5 linked regions of the Homo sapiens genome follow. The protein of the gene in region 2 purifies or fractionates together with the protein of the main gene of each other region. This does not show direct contact. Each region holds a gene or a part of one and is shown on either strand. Other genes may lie near its edges.

Region 1 (3,522 bases), on a different chromosome or scaffold from region 2:
TTTTTTTTTTGAAATGGAGTTTCACTCATTGCCCAGGCTGGAGTGCAGCGGCGCAATCTTGGCTCACTGAAACCTCTGCCTCCCAGGTTCAAGTGACTCTCCTGCCTCAGCCTCCCAAGTAGCTGGGATTACAGGCATGTGCCACCATGCCCAGCTAAATTTTTGTATTTAGTAGAGACGGGGCTTCACCATGTCAGTCAGGCTAGTCTCGAACTCCTGACCTCAGCTGATCCACCCACCTTGGCCTCCCAAAGTGCTGGAATTACAGGCGTGAGCCACCGCGCCTGGCCTGTTCTTGTAATGATTAAATGAGAAAATATATGAGAATGAGTGTTGCAAAGAATAAGACAATAAGTGAATGTAAAGTATTATAATTACTGAACTGAAACAAACTAAAAGTTATTTTTAGTAATTGTGACATATGATAAAACAGACGTATTTCCAGATACACTACAGTGAAAACAGCTTCCATGTTAGCTATTCAAAAGTTAGTACCAGCAAGGACTGAACTGTTAACTTCTACCAAATCCAGAAGTTTAATGGTATTCGCCATCCAGAGCGTCTGCAACGGAATCTGCAAGTAAAATTAAAGAAGGTATGATAAAGGAATACACTCAACTCCCAAACCCTTTTCAACTACTATTTTGTGTTAATCTGGACTTTTCTTTCAATTAGAGGAATTGGGAACTCAGTCACTAAGTTTGATGGAACAGACCGTAAACATGACTCTCTACATCAGTGTTTCCAGGATTTATAAGATCTTTTTTTTTTTTTTTTTGAGACGGAGTCTCGTTGTGTCACCAGGCTGGAGTGCAGTGGCGCGATCTTGGCTCACTGCAAGCTCCGCCTCCCGGGTTCACGCCATTCTCCTGCTTCAGCCTCCCGAGTAGCTGGGACTACAGGCGCCTGCAACCATGCCCGGCTAATTTTTTGTATTTTAAGTAGAGACGGGGTTTCACCATGTTAGCCACGATGGTCTCTATCTCCTGACCTCATGATCCGCCCGCCTTAGCCTCCCAAAGTGCTGGGATTACAGGCGTGAGCCACCGCGCCCGGCCGATTTATAAGATCTTAAATGTTACTTTAAAATCAATGTTTATATCTAATATACTAATATTTCCAATTAAAAATTTATTATCCTTATAAAAAATGCAAGCATTACATTATGTTAAAAAATTTTAGAAAGTGATATTCTGTATTTATTCCCATCCCTATAGGTAACGACTGTTAAGTTTGATGTGCATTTCCCTGTATTTTTTTCTACAAATATTATTATAAAAATCTAGAACACAGTGATAGAGACAGGAGACAGCCAAATGCCACCCAGGTCATTATGCACAGTGGGCTTGACTCAACATGTCCATGGTGAAAAGTTCTGTCCCTTAACACATGCACAGTAAAGGAAATAAATCAAGGTGGCGTGGCTCAGACTAAGGGCCCGCATGAGCACTGGAAGAATGGGGGTGGAGCCACCAGGAATTTCTGCCTTATGCAGGGGAAGAGCCTGGCCTCTTCAGCTCCTGTGTGGTGGCCTGGTATTCAATCTGTGAGGTGGGAGCCTGTTGGCAGGACCCCCTCTTTTTTTGCTGAGAGCTTTCTTTTAATAAATTCCACTCTCCTCACCTTTCAATGTGTCCACGTGCCTAATTTTTCCTGGTTGTGAGACAAGAACCCAGATTTTAGCTGAGTTAAGGAGCAAAAAGTCCTGCATCAATACTGTTTTACAAGGACTTTTGTTATGTGACCATAAAGCATTGATGTTTCATCAGTACATACTTATCAATTTCACTCTATCTGCTGCACAGTAACCCATTTTATGAATATGTAATTTATGCAACTACCTTTATGATAGATATTTGTTATTTTCAATTTATTGCTATTTATAACACTATAAACTAGGGTAATAACCTTGTCGATATATCTTTGAGGGCTTACACATTTCTGGATAATAGTTTTGGGGTTTTTTGTTTTTAAAGTGGAATGCGTGGGTTAAACAGCATCAACATTTTATTGCTAAACTGCCTGGATAAGTGAGAAAAAAATATGATAATCTCTTGCTGTTTATTATTAGCGAAGCTGAGAAGCTGTCCATATATTTATGTGCACTTTTAATTTATTTATCTGTAACCTGCCTATTTATGCCCTTTGGTTATATTTTTTAAAACTGGGATGGTTATCTCATTAATTTGCAAAAATATTTTCTATATTTAGGAAATTAGCCTTTTAACTCTTACATGTGTTGTGAATATTTTCCTCAGTTTGTTGACTTTTAATCTTGGGGACAGCCATTTTTTCCATGCATAAGTTTTTTATTTTCATAATTATATTTCTAAGTCTTTTCTCTCATTACTTTGGTGGTTCGTATCATACTTAAAAAGGCCTACCCCACACTTTAAGATTATTAAATATTGTCAAATTATTCAGTTGTGCTTTTTTATAGTCCTTGTGATTTTACTTTTTATATTTAAATCCTTGATCCATCTATATTTTGATTTTTTTATTATGGTAAAAAACACATAAGAAAAATGTGCTCAATTAACAAATTGTAAGTATACCATACAGTATTGTTAACTACATATGCATTGTTATAATATAGCACTTACTATGATTTTAAAAGATAGGATTTGAGGGCTTCCCCCACCAATGGTTGGCCAGTTATCCCAATACTATTTACTAGATAATCCATCTTACCCTTCCCTCCAGTATGAAATACCACCTTTATCATGTAACACATTTCCAACATACCTGAGATCCTACAGCCTGATTTAAATGTTAATAAAATTTAACACACACCAGGAAATAAGTTCTCTAAAATTTCTGAATTGAATGCATTTATTTCCAGACTGTAGTTCAATCCTCTATTTCATACATGAAGAGAGTGAGGCTCAGAGAAATGCAGCTATTTTCCCAAGGTTGGACCCAGCTAGTTAGTAGCAAAGCCAGGACTGGCTTCTGTTTTCTGATTCTCAGTGCAGTGCTCTTTTTATGACACCCCTTAAAGAGGGTATTTAACTTTCAGAAGAGTTAGGTTGTTGTAATAATTTGAACATTAAATCAAATAAGTAAATGAATTTGAAGAACAAGTTCATAACTGTATCTATGTCATAGCCTCTTCTATAACTTGCTAGCTCACTTTTCTTTTGCCCGCTTCAATAAAAGTTCTGAAACGATTTTCATATGTGCAATTTTTTTCTTTTAAATAACTCAAAATATTTTTGAAACATGCTTACTGACTAAAAAAGATTTCTATTTACTGAGAGTAATAAACATGCTAGGTACATACTCAGAATATAGTCTTGTTCTTCGGGAGGTAAAGCTCACCTTATCATCAGAGCATTGTAGAAAGGAAAGGGATGGTAAGAATATAATCATTTTGGTGTCTGCCATCATTACTGCCAAAATAGTATGTTTGCATGAATTTACATTCACCTAGTTCATTTCCTTTGATCTTGCCAGTTGTGTACATGGTCATTAATCCCACTTTAGAGGTAAAAAAAGCAGAAGCTCAAAGACAAGGGCCTT
Region 2 (3,522 bases):
CCTTTTCCATGACCATGGAAATACTGTCCAGGAAAGAATTCCACCAAAAATTAGTTTTTATATCTGAAAATAAGATCAGTTAAGGTACTAAAAGAAAACTTCTTTGGGCATTGTCCAGCTTATAATACTGCCCTTTTATAATCAACCCACAAAGATAAATCAAGGAATAAACTTATCAATAACCAAAAAGGTCCACATCCATGCCAATAAATTTATAAAAATTAAAAAATACACTACAAATCAGATATTGAAAGTGCATGCAAATTATCTTATGAGAACTGTCTTGCAACCTGACAGGATATTAAAAAAATAGAAACTAAAAATTCAATAAATAAATAAAAAGAGAACTGTCTCAACATAGAAAACAATCAAATAAATATGTACACTGAGTCAGAAAATTATTTTAATAGTTACAAAAATTTTTTTTTTTTTTTTTTACAGAATCAGTATAAAATAGCAGTTGATTTCTCCATAATTATCAGAATTATTTATACTTGAGGTCTTGGCTAAGTGGGGCTGAAATCAACAAAAGGTCTTGGACTGTTGGCTCAGAAATCATCCTAGAAAGCCCGCCCTGTTGATATCTGTCATGCTTAGCTCTTATGAGATGACCCAGTCCTTAAAAAAAAAAAAAAAAAAAAAAAAAAAAGAATCTCTCTTTATTCATTCTTTGGAGGCTTGAAGTGAATTCGGCAGCGTTCATTAAACACCTAAAATATTGAAACAGAAACAAAAGTCATTGAGTTATCCTGCGTAAATCAGGCCTGGAACTAAATTCAATTTAGTAGGCTCCAAAAGGCTATTACCATTTTTGTCCTAAGTCAACAGATTTAGGAAACAGAAGAGTTTCCTCAGCAGTTCAAACTGACTTATGAGGTGCCAAATGCACAGAAGGCCTTGACATCCATTTACAAGACAATTCTAGTATTTTAATAAAATTTAAGTTACTTCGGGAAAAAATCATCAAGAGCCAGGTAATTTAGTTACTAGCAAACATTTCAATTTCATATTCTGGACATTTTTTAAACAACAACACAAAAATATCTAAAATAAGTTAAATAAAGAATGCTCAATAACTAAATGTCCACATGGAACTGTGTTAAATAAAAATTTGGTATGGTTATTCAATGGAATACATGCAAGGTTAAAAATAATTTATGTTCTGATTTAAAAAGATCTCCAAGATTATCAAGGGAAAAAAAAGTGTGAATAGTACAGTTTCACTTGTGTAACAAAGGTAGAAAAATACACACACACATAAAATTAGAAAAGGTTTGAGTATCTGAAAGCATATACCATCTTTCAGAGGGAAGGGAAAGTAGGAGGTAGCTGAAGGAGAGGGACAGAAGGCAGAATTTTTACTGTATATTACTATTTTTAAAATTTTTAAAACATTTTTAATATTAAAAAAATTTAAATCATGTCAAAAATTTTAAGTGTCCAATTATAACAATTCTGAAATTGAAAAGAATTTTTTCTCAGAATTTACCCCCATACATCATTAATGTAAAGAACAAATCACTTTTTAGGTTAAAAAAAAACAAACTACCTATGTTGGCTGCCATTGACTATTATAAAAATAAAAGAAAAATCTAAACACAGAGGTTGTGAGGTACTGTTACTCTATTTCTTTTTATTTATTTATTTTTTTGAGACGGAGTTTCGCTCTTGTCGCCCAGGCTGGAGTGCAATGGCGTGATCTCGGCTCACTGAAACCTCCACCTCCTGGGTTCAAGCAATTCTCCCGCCTCAGCCTCCCGAGTAGCTGGGACTACAGGCACCCGCCACCATGCCCAGCTAATTTTTTGTATTTTTAGTAGAGACGGGGTTTCACCCTGTTGGTCAGGCTGGTATCGAACTCCTGACCTCAAGAGACCCACTCACCTCGGCCTCCCAAAGTGCTGGGATTACAGGCGTGAGCCAGTAAAGTGCTGCGCCTGACCTATTATTCAATTTCTTAAGCTGAGTGGTAGATACATGAATATTCATTTTATTAATATTCATTAAATTCTACATGTCACATAATCTTTCGCATATGCATCTCACAATTAATAGAAAATATGTAGAAATTATATAGACTCTGTCTAGCCCTTTTGTCTTACAATTCATCTCACCCATTTCCAGCCCTGACATTTCCCTGAAATTCCCAATCAGACAAGAGGGAGGCTTCAGTTTAGTGGCCTTGACACACTGGTTGGGGTGATATATACAACTTGGCTGAGCTTCTCCAAATCCTTTTCCCAAATGATTTCCTATCCACTTCTGCTGGCCCACTGCACCAGAGCACCATGGCTACATTTTCTTCTTTTTAAAACAAGTAGGGGCCTCATCTTCTGTGGAGTGGATAGAACATATTTTCTTTAAAACTAATATTAAATTCAAAATAGTTCACTCTTCCCACTACATTTTACATATATCATAAACTTCTGCACTTGTTTTTTCAAGCCAGATGTTTCATTGTACCCCTTCCCCATCCAATCCCAAGAGTAAATATTATTTTTCCAGAGAATATAAATGGGAAATATTGCCAAATCCTCTCAAGTGACAGACACCTTATCATGTTGGTGGAAAGGGCAGGAATAGGAAACCTTGGCAAAGAGGATAAGATAGAGAAATGTGATAAAGCAAAGAAAGCCAATTTGTATTTTGCAATGTGTTCATGTCTCAGCAAGCCGGTACATTCTGGTTTTGGTTCAGCTAACCTCTCTTATAAGCATATAGTTTAACAACATTCCAGTAGTTAAATTCAAATGATAAAACAGAATTTTCAGTACATTTTCTCAGATTTAATAGATTTTTGCCCTTCGTAAATCTTTTAGAGTTTTAGAGAGGGGTAAATGGATATACTTTTTCAGAAAACTAAAGTCAGAGTTTCATGAATTTTGACTATATGTTTCTGGGATCTGGTCCCCTAATCTAGTTCCTAACAAGAACTATGCAATGATAATAAGGAGCTTGTAAATCTATGAGCAATAAAAAGCCTTATCAGATACCAGTAAAACTACATATAATAACAAGTTTTATGATCAGGTAAGTTAGAAGACAAGCAACCGTATAGGTTACCTAATGATAGGAAAACTTACGGAAAGTAACTGAGCTCAAAAAGGCTAATTTGAACAAATAGCCTCCTTGAAGGTTCTGAGTAGTAACTCTAAATAGCAACCATGCCTGTAATTAGTGTTAGGAGACATAGAGAATGTCTCTAATGCTGTTATGATGGCAGCTCATTCAGTTCTATCATATGCTTATAAAGCTAATTTTGTTTTGTTTTGTTTTGGTTTTTTTTTTTGGAGATGGAGTCTCATTCTGTTGCCCAGGCTGGAGTGCAATGGCTTGATCTCAGCTCACTCCAACCTCTGCCTCCTGGGTTCGAGCGATTCTCCTGCCTCAGCCTCCCGAGTAGCTGGGATTACAGGCTCATGCCACCACGCTAATTTTTGTATTTTTAGTAGACACCTGACTTCAGGTGACCCACCCACCTTGGCCTCCCAAAGTGTTGGGATTACAGGTGTGAGCCACCTC
Region 3 (2,280 bases), 3.7 Mb from region 2:
AGAATCTAGGTGGTTTTAGATTAGCTGTCACCAGAAAAGCTCAAGTCTTTGCTTCGGCCATGGGTTCTGGCACTAGGATTGGATGGACTTGGGATCAGGTCTCAGCTCTGTCACCTGCCAACCGGCGGCCCCATTTCCCTCAACAGCACTCCGTTAAAAGCACGGTGAGACCCACATCAAAGAACAAGCCAGGTGGGAGAGCCATCTGCAGCGTGGTGACACCCATCACACGGGTGCCGTGACCCGGTGCTTATGTCGGGTCATCCGCAGGTGGCTGGTGTGGCCCAGGCCCTGCTGACGGAGAGGCTGGACCATCGGGCACCGTGTCTCCCATGTGCAACGGGCTTTTATCTCTCTTGCAGGGTTCTTCTTTGAGCCAACTGTTTTCACAGACGTGGAAGACCACATGTTCATAGCCAAGGAGGAGTCCTTCGGGCCTGTCATGATCATCTCTCGGTTTGCTGATGGGTAGGGAATCCTGCTGATGTCTCAAGGGCCCTGACTCTCTCCCACGTGTTACTGGGGTCTTCATGTGGGCTTTGGGAGGTAGTCTACGGGCAGTCAGGAGGAGAACTCAGGCAGGGCGCAAGCCGTGGACACCCCGCTTGTGCCGCCTGCTGAGTCTCCACACCCCTGAGAAGAGAGCCCAGTGACCTGGGGCTTTGAGTCCCCCCTGTGAGCAAAGGCAGCTCCCTTCCCTGTCCTTGTCACTTGTCACATGCTCCAGCATGTTTCTCACAGCCCGCTGGGCTCTGTTCTAAGGTCTGTTACCATGCATTAAACCACCCCCCACACTGAGTGGCTTGGAATAATCAGAGATTTATTTTAGTCACGGTCTAGGTTCAATGAGGCAAACCCATCTCTGCTCCATGCAGTGTCTGGCCTCAGCTGGGGTGACAGAGTGGCTATCCTGATGCTGCTGGGGGTCTTGCGGGAGGCTTCCTCCGCGTGGCAGCCTCGGGGTTGCCGAGGCACCTGGTTCCCTTCGGAGGCCAGGTGGAAGCCAAAAGGCTCTTTATAATCTAGCTCTTTAGAATCCCAGAGCATCCCTTCCACCACGGCCTGTTGATGAAGCAAGTCACCCAGACCAGGCTGGGCTGGAAGGGAAAAACTGTACTCCACTCACAGTGGGGCCACTGAGGCCCATGCTGTCACTTCTCAGGCCTGCCCCTTGTCTCCGTAGCACCTTGGAGCAAATTGCAAAATCGTGCCTCGTCCTCACATTTTACTATCCAACTACCAAAAAAACCCCAGAAATTATCATCGTATGTCAGTGGTATTAGAATAAGAGACTTCACTGCCACCTAGCCAATAAATATGGTTGTAGTAAGTCTCCAAATCGCTGATGTCTGGTGAATGCCCAACCTGCGGCGGGCACATGTGGGTCCTTCTGCATGTGAGGACCCAGCGGCCCCTCTCTGGGCCCCTGCTCCCAGTCTGTGGAATAAAGGGCTCACCCGATGATCCAGGAGCCCCTGTGGTGGCCACCTGCCCATGGGCCTCTGCCCTTCCTCCTCGCTCGCAGCCCAACCCAACCCAATCTTGCCCCCGGCGCTGCAGCCCGGCACATTTTCTCCTCGGAAGGTCTTATGCAGCTGGGGTGTGGAGTGGGCCGGGGTGTGGAGTGGGCCAGGCTCTCCTCTGCACCTCCCTCAGGGAGTTCTTCCTGGACTTTCTCTCCAGGGACTTGGATGCCGTGCTGTCTCGGGCCAATGCCACGGAATTTGGCCTGGCTTCTGGTGTCTTCACCAGGGACATCAACAAGGCCCTGTATGTCAGTGACAAGCTCCAGGCAGGCACTGTGTTTGTCAACACGTACAACAAGACCGACGTGGCCGCTCCCTTCGGAGGATTCAAACAGTCTGGATTTGGCAAAGATCTAGGTAACCTACTCCTGCCTGTGGGGTTGCTTTCATTTATTCATTCAACAAACATCTGTTCAAAACCACTTAGGGCCAGGTCCTATCTCAGATGCAGGGACGTAGCCTTGAACATGATGGCTGTCAGGGTTCGCTTCTTACTGGGAGGGAACTTGTGACAAGTCCGTGAGCAAGATGCTTGCAGAGGGGGGTCGTGCTGGGAAGAAGGCAAGAAGAGGGGCCTGGAGGAGACACTCCAGCCAGGAGGCACTGGGGGCCTCTCTGGTGTGGTGGCACCTGTGCTACCCAGACCTGCATAGCAGGGAGGAGTTGGCCATGAAGACCCAGGGGCCCGTGTTTCTGGCTGAGGGTTCAGCAGGTCCTTGGGGGAACCAGCTTTGGTCGTGGAGCTGCAGAGAGG
Region 4 (3,522 bases), on a different chromosome or scaffold from region 2:
GCCAGAACCCTCCCGCAGAAGGGTTAGGAGGCGCTTGGAAACCCTGCCTGGGGACATGGAGTTCATGAGACAGCAGATTGGGCAAAGCTGCAACAGCCATATTCATTCAGATGCACCAGGGGCACTTACTGCGCCAGCCACTGGCCAGGTCCCTGATGTTGTGGCACGTGCTACAGTTGTGGTCCTGACCTTTCTCCTGTCTAGTTGTGATGCCCGTATCTATTCTCAGGGGCCCTGGGTGACCAGAGTGTCCTTGAGAGTGAGTCTCAGGCTGTCTGCTTATCTACCCAGAGCCTGGGGCTTGGCCTCAAAGGCGCATTGCACGCGAATCTCAAAGACACAAGTCAGTGTAAGCCCCATTGCTGAGTGCCTCCCACAGCACTGTCTGTGGTCCCAGCTGCTGGGATCTGGTCCTGCCTTGGGCCAGGTTGCTGCCCAACAACGAAGTGCACATGCTGCCCCCACGCATGCCAGGATTGGATCCTGTGCTTCTGACTGCTGCTCTCTGACAGCCGCGTGGCCTGAAGTTGGATGCCAAGTCAGCTGGGTCCTCTCACCTGGGACCCTCAGGCCCAAGTGTCAGTCGGTGGACTATGGGATGTTTGGAGCCTCTGGGAGGGGCCTCAGGCAGTGGTTGTTTTGGTCACCCATGGTAGCCACAGCTGGCAGAGCTCTGCTCCCTGTGAATGAGCTCTGAACTCAGCCTGACCCATGGCAGAAGCTCAGGGGATGTTGGGGTACTGGATAGGTGGATGAGGGGCTTGCCTGCACCGCCTAGTTCTGGACCTGCCGCTGTTTGTCCATGTGGTGTTAATGGGCATTGCCTCCTGAGGGCCTTACTGTCCTCTTGTGAGGAGGGTGTTATTCTCTCCATCTTGCAGTTAAGAAAACTGAGGTAGGCTGGGCACAGTAGCTCACACCTGTAATCCTAGCACTTTGGGAAGCCGAGGAGGGCAGTTCATGCGAACCTAGGAGTTCAAGACCAGCCTGGGCAACATGGCGAAACCCCATCTCTCCAGAAAAGTACATTTAGCCAAATGTGGTGGCGTGTGCTCAGCCTCCAGAAGTTATGAAATTTCCACCTACTTGTGAAATCCTAACCCACTTGTGTTTGTTCATTCCCCTAATGGCCCATATCACATCCCGCCTGTTAAGGAAAGAGCAGGTCCTCGGAGGCTGAGTACAAGTAGCTCCAGCTACTCGGGAGGCTTAAGCAGGAGAATCTCTTGAGGCTGGGAGGCTGAGGCTGCAAGTGAGCCATGATTGCACCACTGCACTCCAGCCTGGACGACAGAGTTAGACTCTGCTTCCAAAAAAAAGGCCAGGTGTGGTGTCTCATGCCTGTAATCCCAGCACTTTGGGAGGCCGAGGCGGGTGGATCACCTGAGGTCAGGAGTTTGAGACCAGCCTGACCAACATGGTGAAACCTCGTCTCTATTAAAAATACAAAATTAGCTAGGCTTGGTTGTGTTCACCTGTAATCCCAGTTACTTGGGAGGGTGAGGCAGGAGGATCGTTTGAACTGGTGAGGTGGAGGTTGCAATGAGCCGAGATTGAACCACTGCACTCTAGCCTGGGTGACAGAGCGAGAGTCAGTCTCAAAAAAATAAATAAAAAATAAAAGACCCAAACCAAAACAAAAAAAGATTCAGAGAGGTTGAGTAATTTGTCCAGGGTCACACAGCTATTGAGAAAGAAAGCTAGGGTTCTGGTCCCAGGTCAACGTGGTTCTCGTTCTGCTTCCTTGCTGCTTCCCAGCTCCCTGAGGGAATGTAGTATGGTGTTTTGCAGCCTTCACCCCTGAGGAAGCAAAGGGCCTGTATCAAATGAGCTGCTATTTTGAAAGAAGCTTTGTTACTTCATAGTGCCTGGTCATTGTCAGATTTTGTGAAACAGTAGTAATGAATGAAAACCAATGTTTATTGAGCACCTGCTGTACCATTAGGCTGTGTGCCAGGCATTTGACAGGCATTATCTCAGCTTTATTGGTGGCCACATTTTACAGGTAAGCAAACTGGGTTGCTCAAAGGAGTTGAGAACGTGTCTATGTCAGATAGCTGGGATTTTTGCACACAGGTGATCCCAAAGCCTGCAGGTGTAACCATTACACTACACTGCGTCTTCTCAGAGATGCCTCCTATAGGAACCTTGCTGGCCTCAATGGGCCGTCCAGTCTGCTGAAACTTTGCAGGCCAGCCCCCCTCTGCCCTGCAGCTCTAGGCAGCTGAAGCCACAGGCCACCACGCCGCTTTGGTTTGAAGTGTGCAGGGGATGGTCGGGGAAGCTCCCCAGTTATGACCTCAGCTCTTACCGTTCATTATTTTGCAACAGTCATTGGCCTTGGCAGAAAAGTAAACAAGTGATTGCAAGGCTGTACGATGGCAGCAGAGGGACCGAAGGCTGTTGGTGTGAGGGGTAGTCTGAGACCTGAGCCGTGTTTCAAGCCGAGGGGACCCTCTGACTTTCACCTCTGTCCTTCAGACAGCACCAGCATCCCATCCCTGAGCCTCCTGTTCCACTCGGGAGGGGCTTTAGGAAGGAGGCGAAGTCAGGTGAGACCGCAGGTGTCATCAGGTGCATCCCTGACCCTCCCTCATCTGCAGTACAGCCACAGCCCTGCCCCTCGCTGTGATCACAGGAGGGTCTTCTCTGGGCTCTTTCTGCTGTGAAATCCAGAAGTTATGAAGTTTCCACCTACTTTTGAAATCTTAACCCACTTGTTTGTTCATTCCCCTAATGGCCCATAATGACATCCCACCTGTTAAGGAAAGAGCAGGTCCTCGGAGGCTGAACAAGGCCAGCTCTGGAGTCGAATCCACTGGAATCTGGAGCAAGCCCCTCTGGCCTCGGGGTTGGGTTCTTGATACTTGTCGGCTTGCCCAGGTGCCCTACCTTCAGACCCCGGGACCCTGCGTAGTGACTGCTGTGACAGATAGCACCAGCCTTGGGTTTCCGATCTGCCTCCGAGGCACCTGCTGTTACGTCCTCGGGCCAGTCAGCAGTCCCCCACCCCTGAGTTGTCAGAATTAAACGGCACAATGAATTGAACGTGTTTGGCACCGTGCCTGGTGTGTGGACTCAGTTGATACTTGTTGACTGAAGGCAAATCTACAGAAAAGCACTAGGAAGAAAGGGAAAGTCACTCGGCTGTGCCACATGAGCTTTCAACCTATGCCGAGCTGCCTCCAGCCCGCGCCACCCCCCTGCGTCTACGGCTTTGCAGTCACAAGATCCTTTGTATGTGCTGTCTATATATAATCGCTTTGTTTCACAAAGATCTGTGCATCTTTCCATGTCATCCGCCAGATTCCCAGTCTTTCCCAGGCCAGCCTAGGCTATTGGCTGCTCGCAGGAACTCCCTTCTGCCTTCTCTCCTGCCAGTTTTGGCTCAACCCAGTCCCTCTGCCTAGAAAGCCCTAGTATTTCCATCATGATTCTTCCTACCCTGCAAAGCCCAGCCCAGGAGGAACCCCCTCCTCTCACGGAACCCCCTCCTCTCACAGAACCCCCTCCTCTCACACA
Region 5 (3,522 bases), on a different chromosome or scaffold from region 2:
CTTCTCTGGGCCACCATCATAACCTCAAAATTCACACAATGTATAGCATCAAACCTTCTGAAACCTGGACCACCAGTGAGAATCATCTTTCTTGCCACCTCGTTTTCCACCGCCACCACCTCCTCCTCCAGAAGAGCGTGTGGTAGCAGCTGGCTTTGATTCTGTTCATAAACAAAGAGCACACACAGAAGCACGGCAAGGTTTTAGCTCTCTCAGCAATGTCTTCATGTATACGGTTTAATAAAAGACTCATTGCAGAATACACTGTGGCAACTGATCAGTTACTAAGTGAAGCACTATGAGAAAGAATACAAATACAAAGCTTACCAATCAGGGAGGCTCCCAAGGGCTATACTTGCATCATCTCATGAAATATGCACAATAACCCAATAACCCAAGAAATTATAGGACTGTTATACCCTTCACAGAGGGAGAAAGTATAGCTTAAGTAACTTGTTGGATGGGTGGCAGTGTTAGGGGACAGTGAATAAGTCACAGAGTTGGGATGCAAATTCCTCAGTCCCCACTCAAAGTTTAAAGTGTGTTCTGGCCACGCACGGTGGCTCATGCCTGTAATACCAGAATTTCGGGGGGCCAAAGCAGGAGAATCCCTTGAGCCCAGGAGTTCAAGACCAGACTGAGCAACAAAGCAAGACCCTGCCTCTGGCCGGGCGCGGTGGTTCACGCCTGTAATCCCAGCACTTTGGGAGGCCAAGGTGGGCGATCACCTGAGGTCGGGAGTTTGAGACCAGCCTGTTCAACATGGAGAAACCCTGTCTCTACTAAAAATACAAAATTAGCTGGGCATGGTGGCGCATGCCTGTAATCCCAGCTACTAGGGAGGCTGAGGCAGGAGAATCGCTTCAACCTGGGAGGCGGAAGTTGTGGTGAGCCAAGATCACGCCATTGCACTCCAGCCTGGGCAACAAGCGTGAAACTCCGTCTCAAAAAAAAATAAAAAATAAAAAATAAAAAAATAAAATAAAAATTAGCCAGGCATCGTAGTGTGCACCTGTGGTCCCAGCTACACAGGAGGCTGAGGCAGGAGAATCGCTTGAGTCCTAGAGTTTGAGCCTGTAGTGAGCTGTGATTGTACCACTGCACTCCAGCCTGGGCAACAGGAAGACCTTATCTCAAAAACAACAGCAACAACAAAACAAAACAAAAGTAAGTACTCCCTTTCCCACTCCCACAAAGTATACATTGTTAACACTTTCTTGTGCAGGAAAGCCCATGGTTTTGACAAATGGCTAAAAAAACACACCCACAGTTGGTATTCAGCTGGCATCTTTGCTTTGTAGGGAAATGTATGTAAGGAAAACTGTAAATCAGTCCTTGTTGTTGTTTTAGACGGAGTTTCACTCTGTCTCCCAGAGTGGAGTACAATGGCGTGATCTCAGCTCACTGCAACCTCTGCCTCCCAGGCTGGAGTACAATGGCGTGATCTCAGCTCACTGCAACCTCTGCCTTCCAGGTTCAAGCGATTCTCATGCCTCAGCCTCCCAAGTAGTTGGGATTACAGGAGCACGCCACCATGCCCGGCTAATTTTTGTATTTTTAGTAGAGATAGGGTTTCATCATGTTGGCCAGGCTGGTCTTCAACTCCTGACCTCAGCTGATGCACCCGTTTCGGCCTCCCAAAGTGCTGGGATTACAGGCGTTGAGCCACCGCACCCGGACCGAATACACTTCTAATGTCTTCAGTGACCATGAAGCAACCCCTCTAGTGTAGCAGGATGGGAGGCTACAGGCACCCGGTCATCCTCAGTGGCTATGTAACATGTGGCTTCATGACACATTCACTCCGCTATGCTGCATACGAGGGGCTTCTGCACCTCTGTCTCGAGTGGAGTCTGAGACAGGTATGATATGCACAAGCCTCAGCCCCCAGAATGAGGCCCAGGACTAAAAAACACGCAGTAAGCACACCACTAAAGCTGTGCAACACTCCAAACCACTCAGGGAGAAAGGAATGTCCACACAAAAGCAACCCAAAAGCTTGCATGGGTTATCATTACTCGGCCCCCACACCAAGACTCAAAGACCACCTAGCATGCACTGGGAGAACTGTAGGTACTGCTCCAATCTAGAGCCCCGGGGCTGTCACCAGCCCACACCAGTGCTTCTCCCTCCCCATGTCCCCTGGCTCTTACTCCTTTGCATTCTTTGGGCATATATTTGTCTGTCCAACTAGATGACAAGTACATTTAAAAACGTGGACTCCTCGAGGCCAGGTGCAGTGGTCACGCCTGTAATCCTAGCACTTTGGGAGGCAGAGGCGGGTGGATCACATGAGGTCAGGAGTTCAAGACCAGCTTGGCCAACATGGTGAAACCTCATCTCTTAAAAATTAGCTAGGCATGGTGGCGCATGCCTATAATCCCAGCTACTGTGGAGGCTGAGGCAGGAGAATCACCTGAACCCAAGAGGCAGAGGTTGCAGTGAGATCGTGCCACTGCACTCCAGCCTGGGCGACAGAGACCCCTCCTCAAAAAAAAAAAAAAAGAAACTGAATTACAGTTTTCTTTACATTTCCCTAAAAAAGCAAGGATGGGCCGGGCATGGTGGCTCACGCCTGTAATCCCAGCACTTTGGGAGGCCGAGGCAGGCGGATCACAAGGTCAGGAGATGGAGACCATCCTGGCTAACACAGCGAAACCCCGTCTCTACTAAAAATACAAAAAAAAAAAAATTAGCCAGGCGTGCGCCTTTAGTCCCAGCTACTCAGGAGGCTGAGGCAGGAGAATGGTGCGAACCCAAGAGGCGGAGCTTGCAGTGAGCCAAGATCATGCCACTGCACTCCAGCCTGGACGACAGAGCTAGACTCTGTCTCAAAAAAAAAAAAAAAAAAAAAAAAGCAAGGAAGTCAGTCAAAATGGGCACAGGAGGCCCACTCAGTCCCCCAGCCACCGTGCTCTAAAAAAGTCTCTCCGAATCCCTAAGGTGAGGTAATGCTCTGAGGAGCAATTTTTAAAACACTGCCCTAAACACAATATGTATCAAATAAATTGCATGTATTAGATTTCTACGATTTTTCTCAATGTTTTAAATTATGTGCCAGATATCTACCAAATATGCTTAGTTTGACCAGACAATACCTCTAAGGTAGCCTTAAATTACTTCAATTTGCAAAATGACAGAAAAATATCAACAGAAAATTAAGGTGAAATGTAACATAAGGTCTCTAGAATTTTATATGTACTTGCAACCTACAGCTTCACAACTGACTTACTATAACTTTCTTTTTTTTTTTTTTTTCTTTTTTTTTTGAGACAGGGTCTCTCTGTTGCCCAGGCTGGAGTGCAGTGGCACAATCACAGCTCCCTGCTGGGCTCAGGTGATTCTCCCACCTCAGCCTCCCAGGTAGCTGGGACTACAGGTGTGCACCACCATGTCTAACTAATTTTTTGTATTTTTAGTAGGGACAGAGTTTCACCACATTGCCCAGGCTGGTCTCAACCTCCTGGGCTCAAGTGATCCACCCGCCTAGGCCTCCCAAAAGGCTGGGATTACAGGCGTGAG

What was found.
Region 1: the proteins of MIX23 (region 2) and MTFMT purify together in Homo sapiens (affinity purification with mass spectrometry; one large-scale study listed by BioGRID and IntAct). This does not show direct contact.
Region 3: the proteins of MIX23 (region 2) and ALDH1L1 purify together in Homo sapiens (co-immunoprecipitation; one large-scale study listed by IntAct). This does not show direct contact.
Region 4: the proteins of MIX23 (region 2) and PAM16 purify together in Homo sapiens (affinity purification with mass spectrometry; one large-scale study listed by BioGRID and IntAct). This does not show direct contact.
Region 5: the proteins of MIX23 (region 2) and AFG3L2 purify together in Homo sapiens (affinity purification with mass spectrometry; one large-scale study listed by BioGRID and IntAct). This does not show direct contact.

The regions. Positions count from the first base shown.
Region 1 is NC_000015.10:65,005,618-65,009,139, forward strand, and holds part of MTFMT (methionyl-tRNA formyltransferase, mitochondrial), read right to left. Parts: intron 575-3,522; coding exon 496-574; intron 1-495. UniProt on the Homo sapiens protein: Methionyl-tRNA formyltransferase that formylates methionyl-tRNA in mitochondria and is crucial for translation initiation.
Region 2 is NC_000003.12:122,359,210-122,362,731, forward strand, and holds the end of MIX23 (protein MIX23), read right to left. Parts: intron 711-3,522; coding exon 660-710; 3' UTR 382-659; downstream 1-381.
Region 3 is NC_000003.12:126,105,329-126,107,608, reverse strand, and holds part of ALDH1L1 (cytosolic 10-formyltetrahydrofolate dehydrogenase), read left to right. Parts: exon of another isoform or gene 1-362; coding exon 363-468; exon of another isoform or gene 469-1,683; coding exon 1,684-1,883; exon of another isoform or gene 1,884-2,076; intron 2,077-2,280. UniProt on the Homo sapiens protein: Cytosolic 10-formyltetrahydrofolate dehydrogenase that catalyzes the NADP(+)-dependent conversion of 10-formyltetrahydrofolate to tetrahydrofolate and carbon dioxide.
Region 4 is NC_000016.10:4,344,816-4,348,337, reverse strand, and holds part of PAM16 (mitochondrial import inner membrane translocase subunit TIM16), read left to right. Parts: intron 1-3,522. UniProt on the Homo sapiens protein: Regulates ATP-dependent protein translocation into the mitochondrial matrix. Inhibits DNAJC19 stimulation of HSPA9/Mortalin ATPase activity.
Region 5 is NC_000018.10:12,367,222-12,370,743, forward strand, and holds part of AFG3L2 (mitochondrial inner membrane m-AAA protease component AFG3L2), read right to left. Parts: intron 162-3,522; coding exon 55-161; intron 1-54. UniProt on the Homo sapiens protein: Catalytic component of the m-AAA protease, a protease that plays a key role in proteostasis of inner mitochondrial membrane proteins, and which is essential for axonal and neuron development.